Linked DNA regions of Homo sapiens. The protein of the gene in region 1 interacts with the protein of each later gene in a biochemical or structural test. Each region holds a gene or a part of one and is shown on either strand. Other genes may lie near its edges.

Region 1 (3,823 bases):
TTGAGCTTTTCTCCTCCACATAAGCAGTATTTTATTTAATGGTGCTGGCACTTTAGTTGCCTACTTACAGCTCCCCCTGCCTAGAATGTTCTGCCTACACCTCTTCATATGGCTGATGTCTCTCATCCTTTGAGCCTTCATTTAAATTGTTCCTTGACTGATCTTCAAGATGAGACAAAGTCAGCTTGCTATGTTCTTTCTTGTACAGGACACCATACTTTCTCTTTCATAATTCCCTTTATTCTTGTCACTAATTGTCCAACATGTTTTCCTACTACAAGAACCAAGACATTAGTCCATGTGGCAGAGGCCATGTCTGTTTGTTTGCAGCTATATAAACCCCAGGAACGAGGTTTTCTACCTGACACACAGGTACACACAGGGATATTTTTTTTTAAAATTTTGTATTTAAAAAAATTATAGACTCACAAGAGATCACAAAGAAATGTACAGGGATTGGCCGGGCACAGTGGCTCACGCCTGTAATCCCGGCACTTTGGGAGGCCAAGGAGGGCGGATCACCTGAGGTTGGGAGTTTGAGACCAGCCTGATCAACACGGAGAAACCCCATTTTTACTAAAAATACAAAATTAGCCGGGTGTGGTGGCACATGCCTGTAATCCCAGCTACTTGCGAGGCTGAGGCAGGAGAATCGCTTGAACCTGGGAGGCGGAGGGTGCGGTGAGCCAAGATCGTGCCATTGCACTCCAGCCTGGGCAAGAAGAGCGAAACTCTGTTTCAAAAATAAATAAATAAATAAAAAAGAAATGTACAGGGAGGTTCATGCACTCTTCATCCAGCCTCCCACAATGTCAATGTCTTGCGTAACTACAGTACAGTAGCAAAACTACAAAACTGGTATTGGTACAAACCAGAGGTTATTCAGATTTTACCAATTGTATGTCTACTCCTATTTATACCTGTGTGTGGCTCTATGTAATTTTCCCACATAGGTAGCTTCATATAACTACCACCACAATCAATGATAAAGAACTGTACCATCATAAGACTCCCTTATTCTACCCTTTACAGCCACACCCACCCCTCCTCCCCTACTCCTCACCCCAGCAACCACTAACCTTTCTCCAGATTATATATAGTATTTCAAGAGTCTTCTATAAATGGAAACACCCAGTATGTCATGTTTTGGGATTGGCTTTTTTTCGCTCAGCATAATTCTCTGGAGATTCATTCATATTGTGTCTAAATAGGTCATTCCTTTTCACTGTCGAGTATATTCCATAGTAGGAATGTACCACAGTTTATTCACCCATTGAAGGATATATGGGGTGTTTTCAGTTTCATTGTTATTAAAAATAAAGCTGCTATGAATATTCATGTACAGGCTTTTGTGTGAACTTAAGTTTTCAGTCCTCTGGAACAGATGCCCAGGAGTGCTAATGCTGGGTTCTATGGCAGATGCACGTTTAGTTTGTTAAAGATACTGCTGGCCAGGCATGGTGGCTCACACCTGTAATCCCAGCACTTTGGGAGGCCAAGGCAGGCGGATCACAAGGTCAAGAGATTGAGACCATCCTGGTCAACATGGTGAAACCCCGTCTCCACTAAAAATACAAAAAAATTAGCTGGGTGTGGTGGTGTGTGCCTGTAGTCCTAGCTACTTGGGAGGCTGAGACAGGAGAATCGCCTGAACCTGGGAGGCGGAGGTTGCAGTGAGCCAAGATTGTGCCACTGCACTCCAGCCCGGTGACAGAACGAGACTCCATCTCAACAAAAAAAAAAAAAAAAAAAAAAAAATACTGCCAAACTATGTTCCAGAGTGGCTGCACCATTTTACATACTCACTGTAGTGTATGAGTGATCTAGTTTCTTTGCATTCTTGCTAGCACTTAGTGTTGTCATTTTTTATTTCAGTCATTCTGCTAGGTACACAGTGGTATCTCATTGTGTCATTAATGTGCATTTCCCTAATGGCTAATGTTAAACATCTTTCCATGTGCTTCTTTGCCAACCACACATTCTCTTTAGCAAAATGTCTGTTAATGTTTTTGCCCATTTTCTAATTGAATTGTTTGGTTGAGTTCTGATACTTCTTTTTTATTATTATTACTATTATTTTTTTGAGACAGAGTCTCTCTCTGTCACCCTGGCTGGAGTGCAGTGGTGTGATCTCAGCTCACTGCAACCTCCGCCTCCCAGGTTCAAGTGGTTCTCCTGCCTTAACCTCCCGAGTAGCTGGGGTTACAGGCATGTGCCACCACGCCCGGCTAGTTTTTATAGCTTTAGCAGAGACAGGGTTTTGCCATGTTGGCCAGGATGGTCTCAAACTCCTGACCTCAGGCAATCAACCCACCTCGGCCTCCCAAAGTGCTGGGATTACAGGCATGAGCCACCACGCCCCATGTGTTATTATTTTTGAGACATGGTCTTGTTCTGTTGACCAGGCTGCAGTGCAGTAGTGCAATCATAGTTTACCACAGCCAGCCTCAAACTCCTGGCCTCAAGCAATCTTCCTGCCCTGGCTTCCCAAAGTGTTGGGATTACGGGCATGAGCCACTGCACCAGGCCAAATGTCATTTATATATTCTAGACACTATAGTCCTTTGTTGGATACGTGGTTTACAAATATTTTCCCCCAGTGTGTAATTCATCTTTTCATCCTTTCCCACCCCTACCCCCAGCCATGGAGGTGTGATCACCACTCATTGCAACCTTGAGCTCTTGGGCTCAAGCAATCCTCCCACCTCAGCCTCCTGACTAGTTGGGACTATCAGTGCACACCACCACACCCAGCTCAATTTTTCAAATTGTTTTGTAGAGATGGGGTTTCACCAGATACCCAGGCTGGCCTGGAACTCCTGGGCTCAAGTGATCCACCCGCTTGGCCTCTCAAAAGTGGTGGGATTACAGCTGTGAGCCACTGCACCTGGCCCTTTCATCCTCTTAAGAGTCTTTTGCAGAGTAAAAGTTTTAAATTTTGATGAGGTACTTAGCATATTTTGATTTGACAGACTATATGAATCACAAAATAATTTCCTGAGCATCCTGTCTTCTTTCAACTTCTGAAACTCTACTTCTCTACTTCTGTTCTCAAAGTTGCTTAAAATGCTGGTCTATGACAAAATAATGAGTTGAATCAGAATATAAACCAATAGTATCATTAATCACCATGTTTAGTTCAGTTCATCTTTTTTTCATGAGGAGCCTTTTTTTTGAGACCGAGTCTCGCTCTGTCGCCCAGGCTGGAGTGCAGTGGCGTGATCTCGGCTCACTGCAAGCTCCACCTCCCGGGTTCATGCCATTCTCCTGCCTCAGCCTCCCGAGTAGCTGGGACTACAGGTGCCCGCCGCTGCGCCCGGCTTTTTGTGTTTTTAGTAGAGACAGGGTTTCACCGTGTTAGCCAGGATGGTCTTGATCGGCTGACCTTGGGATCTGCCTGCCTTGGCCTCCCAAAGTGCTAGGATTACAGGCGTGAGCTACCGTGCCCAGCCCTTTTTTTTTTTTTTTTTTTTGAGACAGAGTCTTGCTCTGTTGCCCAGGCTGGAATGCAGTGGCGTGATCTCTGCTCACTGCAACCTCTGCCTCCCAGGTTCAAGCAATTCTCCTGCCTCAGTCTTCCAAGTAGCTGGGACTACAAGCGTGCGCCACCATGCCCAGCTAATTTTTGTATTTTCAGTAGAGAAAGCGTTTCACCACGTTGGCCAGGCTAGTCTCAAACTCCTGACTGTAAGTGATCTGCTCATCTCAGCCTCCCGAAGAGCTGGGATTATAGGAGTGAGCCACTGCGCCTGGCCCATAAGGAGACTTTCTCATTAAAAGTGGTTCTGCTGCAAATTCCTTATCTCTTCAAGATGGGAAAAGA
Region 2 (3,823 bases), on another chromosome or scaffold:
GACACGAGACTAACACAAACATAACAGAAAGTGCCAGCTAACCTGGTCATCTTGAGAGGCTAATTAATTCAACAGCAGTTCTTAGTCCAACTGGAACATGCATCTGAGAAAAGACTCATTTAACTCTAAGCTTTTATCATATGAAGTCCCTCATTCCCTCTTTTCTATCTCATGATTAATTAAAAAACAGAAGCATAAAGCTCTCTATAATGTTATATAATTTATTTTTGAAGTTATTAATTGGTAAACTTACAGTAAAAGGTTGAGAAAAATACATGTTCAACTATAATACGACTTCAAATTCAAAATTTCCTGAAAGACAATGTCAACAACTTTTTACTCAGAAAAGGATACAGATTTGCCACGTCATATGGCCCTCTTATTTCTAAAGGCTGAAATAAAATGAACAAAGAGTAGATATGAGAAAATTATTTATAACATTTCAATGACTTATAGCAAATTAATAGAAAATTTAAGTATCCAAAAATAAAAAAATTACATAAATTTAAGTCCTTATAATTTTGATGGGTTTCATAGCTTTTGAAAATATAAGAGAAGCTTGAAAGGCATTTTGTAACAGTATAAAAGAAAAACTGATTATATAAACAAAAGTTGAAGCCTAAAGAAAGTGGGGATAAATTTTACTATTTAGCAATTACAATGAGCAAATGCAGTTAAAATAGAAAAAAATGCAACAAATATTCATTTACTATTTTAATTTATCCCCTAGAAACTGAAAAGTTTTATAACCTGAAAGATGAAAACAAAGTACTTCATGCTAGACTTACCCTTTCTGCAGCACTAGATATAATTACATTCTACAAAATAGAAAGTGACTAATATTAATCTTAGATAAATGTAAAAAAAGGAGTTTCATAATATAAATAGCCAGTAATCATATTTTAACATTTAAGGCTCAAATACCAACTTCTTTTAAAGATAAGGTAAATAATTAAGGTGAAAAAAATGAAAAGACTTCATGTCAAACTAAAGGCAATCTGTAATAAAAAACAAAATATGTTTTCCTAACAGATCTTAGTAAAGGTGAATTAAGTTTAAAAAACAAGATGAAAAGGTCACATATCTTAATTCAACTCAGTGAGGACCATTGTTATTCTAGACTTTTCTTTCACAGTATGTAAATTGCAAATTTTTATCAAAAGATATGGCTTCCAACACATCTTTTTCTCCCTTACATTATTCTTCCCTTGGTATTTTTCTTTCCCTTAAAATTTGCAGAGCTCACTGAAATGGCAGAATTTGTTCCTATGCTATGAGAACATTCTGCTTTAAGGAAAAGGAGTCAGTTTGACAATTCCAGTGTACTACTAATAATAAACTGCCAGATGCGAAAAACATCCTAAAATTATAGAACCATACCTTTCCTTTGCAGATTTGCATCAAATTGAGGGCACTGGAAATTGTATACCTTCTCATTGTGGAGTCTTTGATAGCAGGGCTATAGACAAGTTCAAAAGCCAGGCCTCGGTCAATCGCCTTCACAGGAAATAAAGAGAACTGTCAGAGATAAGCATGCACTGGCCTACTTCATTTTCACTGATTCTCTCTTCACATCCCTCCTCACTCCCTACTACTGACCCCTTACATGTCAAGGTACAGCTTTATGAAAGACAGATCAACACTCAAATGGCACCACCCACAAGGAGAAGAAAATAAATCCGTGGCTCTACTTGATTAAGAGAGTTTAACTTGGCTGTGGGGAAGCTGACTTTACATAAACAGGAATTATGAAGAGGCTAAGAAGAACAAAGTCCCAATGGCGTGAGAGAGGGGCTACTACTCCATGAACTATCAAAAGGAAAACAGAAATGTACTCCCTACATTTACAGTAAACTGTATACAAACATAGTAAACCAAGTAATCTGACCTATGAATGCACAAAGAGACAAAGAAATGAAGAGCTGAAAAAAGCCCAAAGAACCAAGGGCAGGAAGGTCTTTCAGGTAAGTAATTTATTCTCTATATGTTGAAGAGAGAATAACAGCCATAGTTAATTGAGTGCTGACTATATGCTAAGAGAGTCTTATATATAATATTTAATCCTTACTACAATACCTTTATAAAGCATTACTGCAAAGCCTGCAAATTGCCCAGATATCTGTCCTCTCCTTTTTCTTTAGTAATAAAGCCCCTGATTTTTCACTGGGCTTATAGCCGCACAGCAAAAAAGATGGAAGTGCCCTTGAAGATTTTGCCCAGCTCACCATACAAGCTTGGCTTTTTTCATGAGAAACAGAAACTTCTTTATTTAATGTACTCTTACTACAGAGGGATCCACAGGTAAGTAGATGAGTGGAAATGATATTGAAATTAACCACCATACTGTTCAGCTTTCCTAATGAGCACCTAAATGTCTGCATCCATTCACAAAAGATGTTTTAAGCCCACTACGTGCAAAAGCTGAGATGGTTTCTCCCTTCTAAAAGCTTACATTTTAGTGGGGGAGATGATCAATAACCACACAAAAATACAAAACTTCAACTGTGTTAAGTGCTATCAAGGAGAAGTTTAGGGTTGAGGAAGAAATTAAGCAGTTAAATAGTAGAGGAAGGTGCACTTTCAGAGGGAGGTCAGAGCATGCAAAAGTCTTCAAGGTTGCAGCATGGCAGCACGTAGGGAAGGTCAAATGCTGGAGAAAAATAATGAGGAAGACAGGCTAAAGAGGATGGGAAGGGCCAACTGTGCAGGCCTTTAGAGCTGGTGATGAGGATTATTCCTAATGGAGAAAACATCTGAAGGATTTTCAGCATAGAGATGATAATCAGACTCTCAATTGCAAAAGTCACTTGAGTGGCAGTACTCTTTCAAAAGAATAAAGAAAGAATGGTAGGCATGTTCTAGGCAGTATGGTCCAAGTCTCTGCTTGGCAAATGAGTTTCGATTGCCCAGAGTATAAGTTGGGACTGGCCCAGCTGTGACTACTGGGGTTTACTCCTGAGCATTTACGGGGAATGGAGAAACTTGTCTTTTTCTAGAACTGGCAGTCCATCTTGATTTAATTCAGTTGTACTTGAAGGCCCCTTCTGCTTTTCCCTCCCGAACACAGATTTCCTTAATTCTTCCTCCGGCTTCAAGGCTCCCAGATTTTATTTTAGATTTTCCTATATGTCTGATTCTAGTTTGGTTAGAATTTAAATGCTATTTTCCACACTGCAACCTTTCCCTCTCTCATTTTTTGACTTTTCCCCATCTCTAATTCTTTCACCTGTGTTGATTATTTCTGGGAATGACATTTGTTAAGATAGTATTTCTGTCCTAGTTGAACGTGTATCTCATTGGCTCTGCCAAGCTTGCACACTTCTTGAGAGCTAGACTGCCTTTTACATAAAAGGTGTATAATATATTTATATTTTGAGTGAATAAATAGCAGCTTATGGAGAAGATGTCCTGTGATAACGTTGTTCATTATAGATGATCCATCATCAAAGGAACCTCGGTGCACCTGGCTAACCAAAAACCACAGATAAGTAAAAACATCCCTTTTAGCCATATTATCAGCCATCTCCTTGGCTATATATTTTACCAAAACTACTAATTAGCTGAAGAGGCTGACCTGTATTTCTTTTCCTTATCCTTCTAGTTGTGGAACGATAATACAAGGCAACAGGATGATGAAGAGGGGAAATAAATGAAAGAGGTGAATGATATATAGAGTTGGATGCTTAGATCTCGAAATATTCCTAATTGACTGAATCTAAATTTCTAGACCCTTGTGGGTACCAAATCAAAATAAAAACAACTTTTGCGGGGGGAGGGGAGAAAAAAAGGATATTATCAGCATAATTATTTTTTAAGGAAAAAG

What was found.
Region 2: the proteins of RPP14 (region 1) and RPP30 form a complex in vitro, tested with the Homo sapiens proteins (one study listed by BioGRID).

The regions. Positions count from the first base shown.
Region 1 is NC_000003.12:58,312,611-58,316,433, reverse strand, and holds part of RPP14 (ribonuclease P protein subunit p14), read right to left. Parts: intron 713-3,823; exon of another isoform or gene 615-712; intron 1-614. UniProt on the Homo sapiens protein: Component of ribonuclease P, a ribonucleoprotein complex that generates mature tRNA molecules by cleaving their 5'-ends.
Region 2 is NC_000010.11:90,892,449-90,896,271, reverse strand, and holds part of RPP30 (ribonuclease P protein subunit p30), read right to left. Parts: intron 1,498-3,823; coding exon 1,381-1,497; intron 819-1,380; coding exon 789-818; intron 393-788; coding exon 355-392; intron 1-354. UniProt on the Homo sapiens protein: Component of ribonuclease P, a ribonucleoprotein complex that generates mature tRNA molecules by cleaving their 5'-ends. Also a component of the MRP ribonuclease complex, which cleaves pre-rRNA sequences.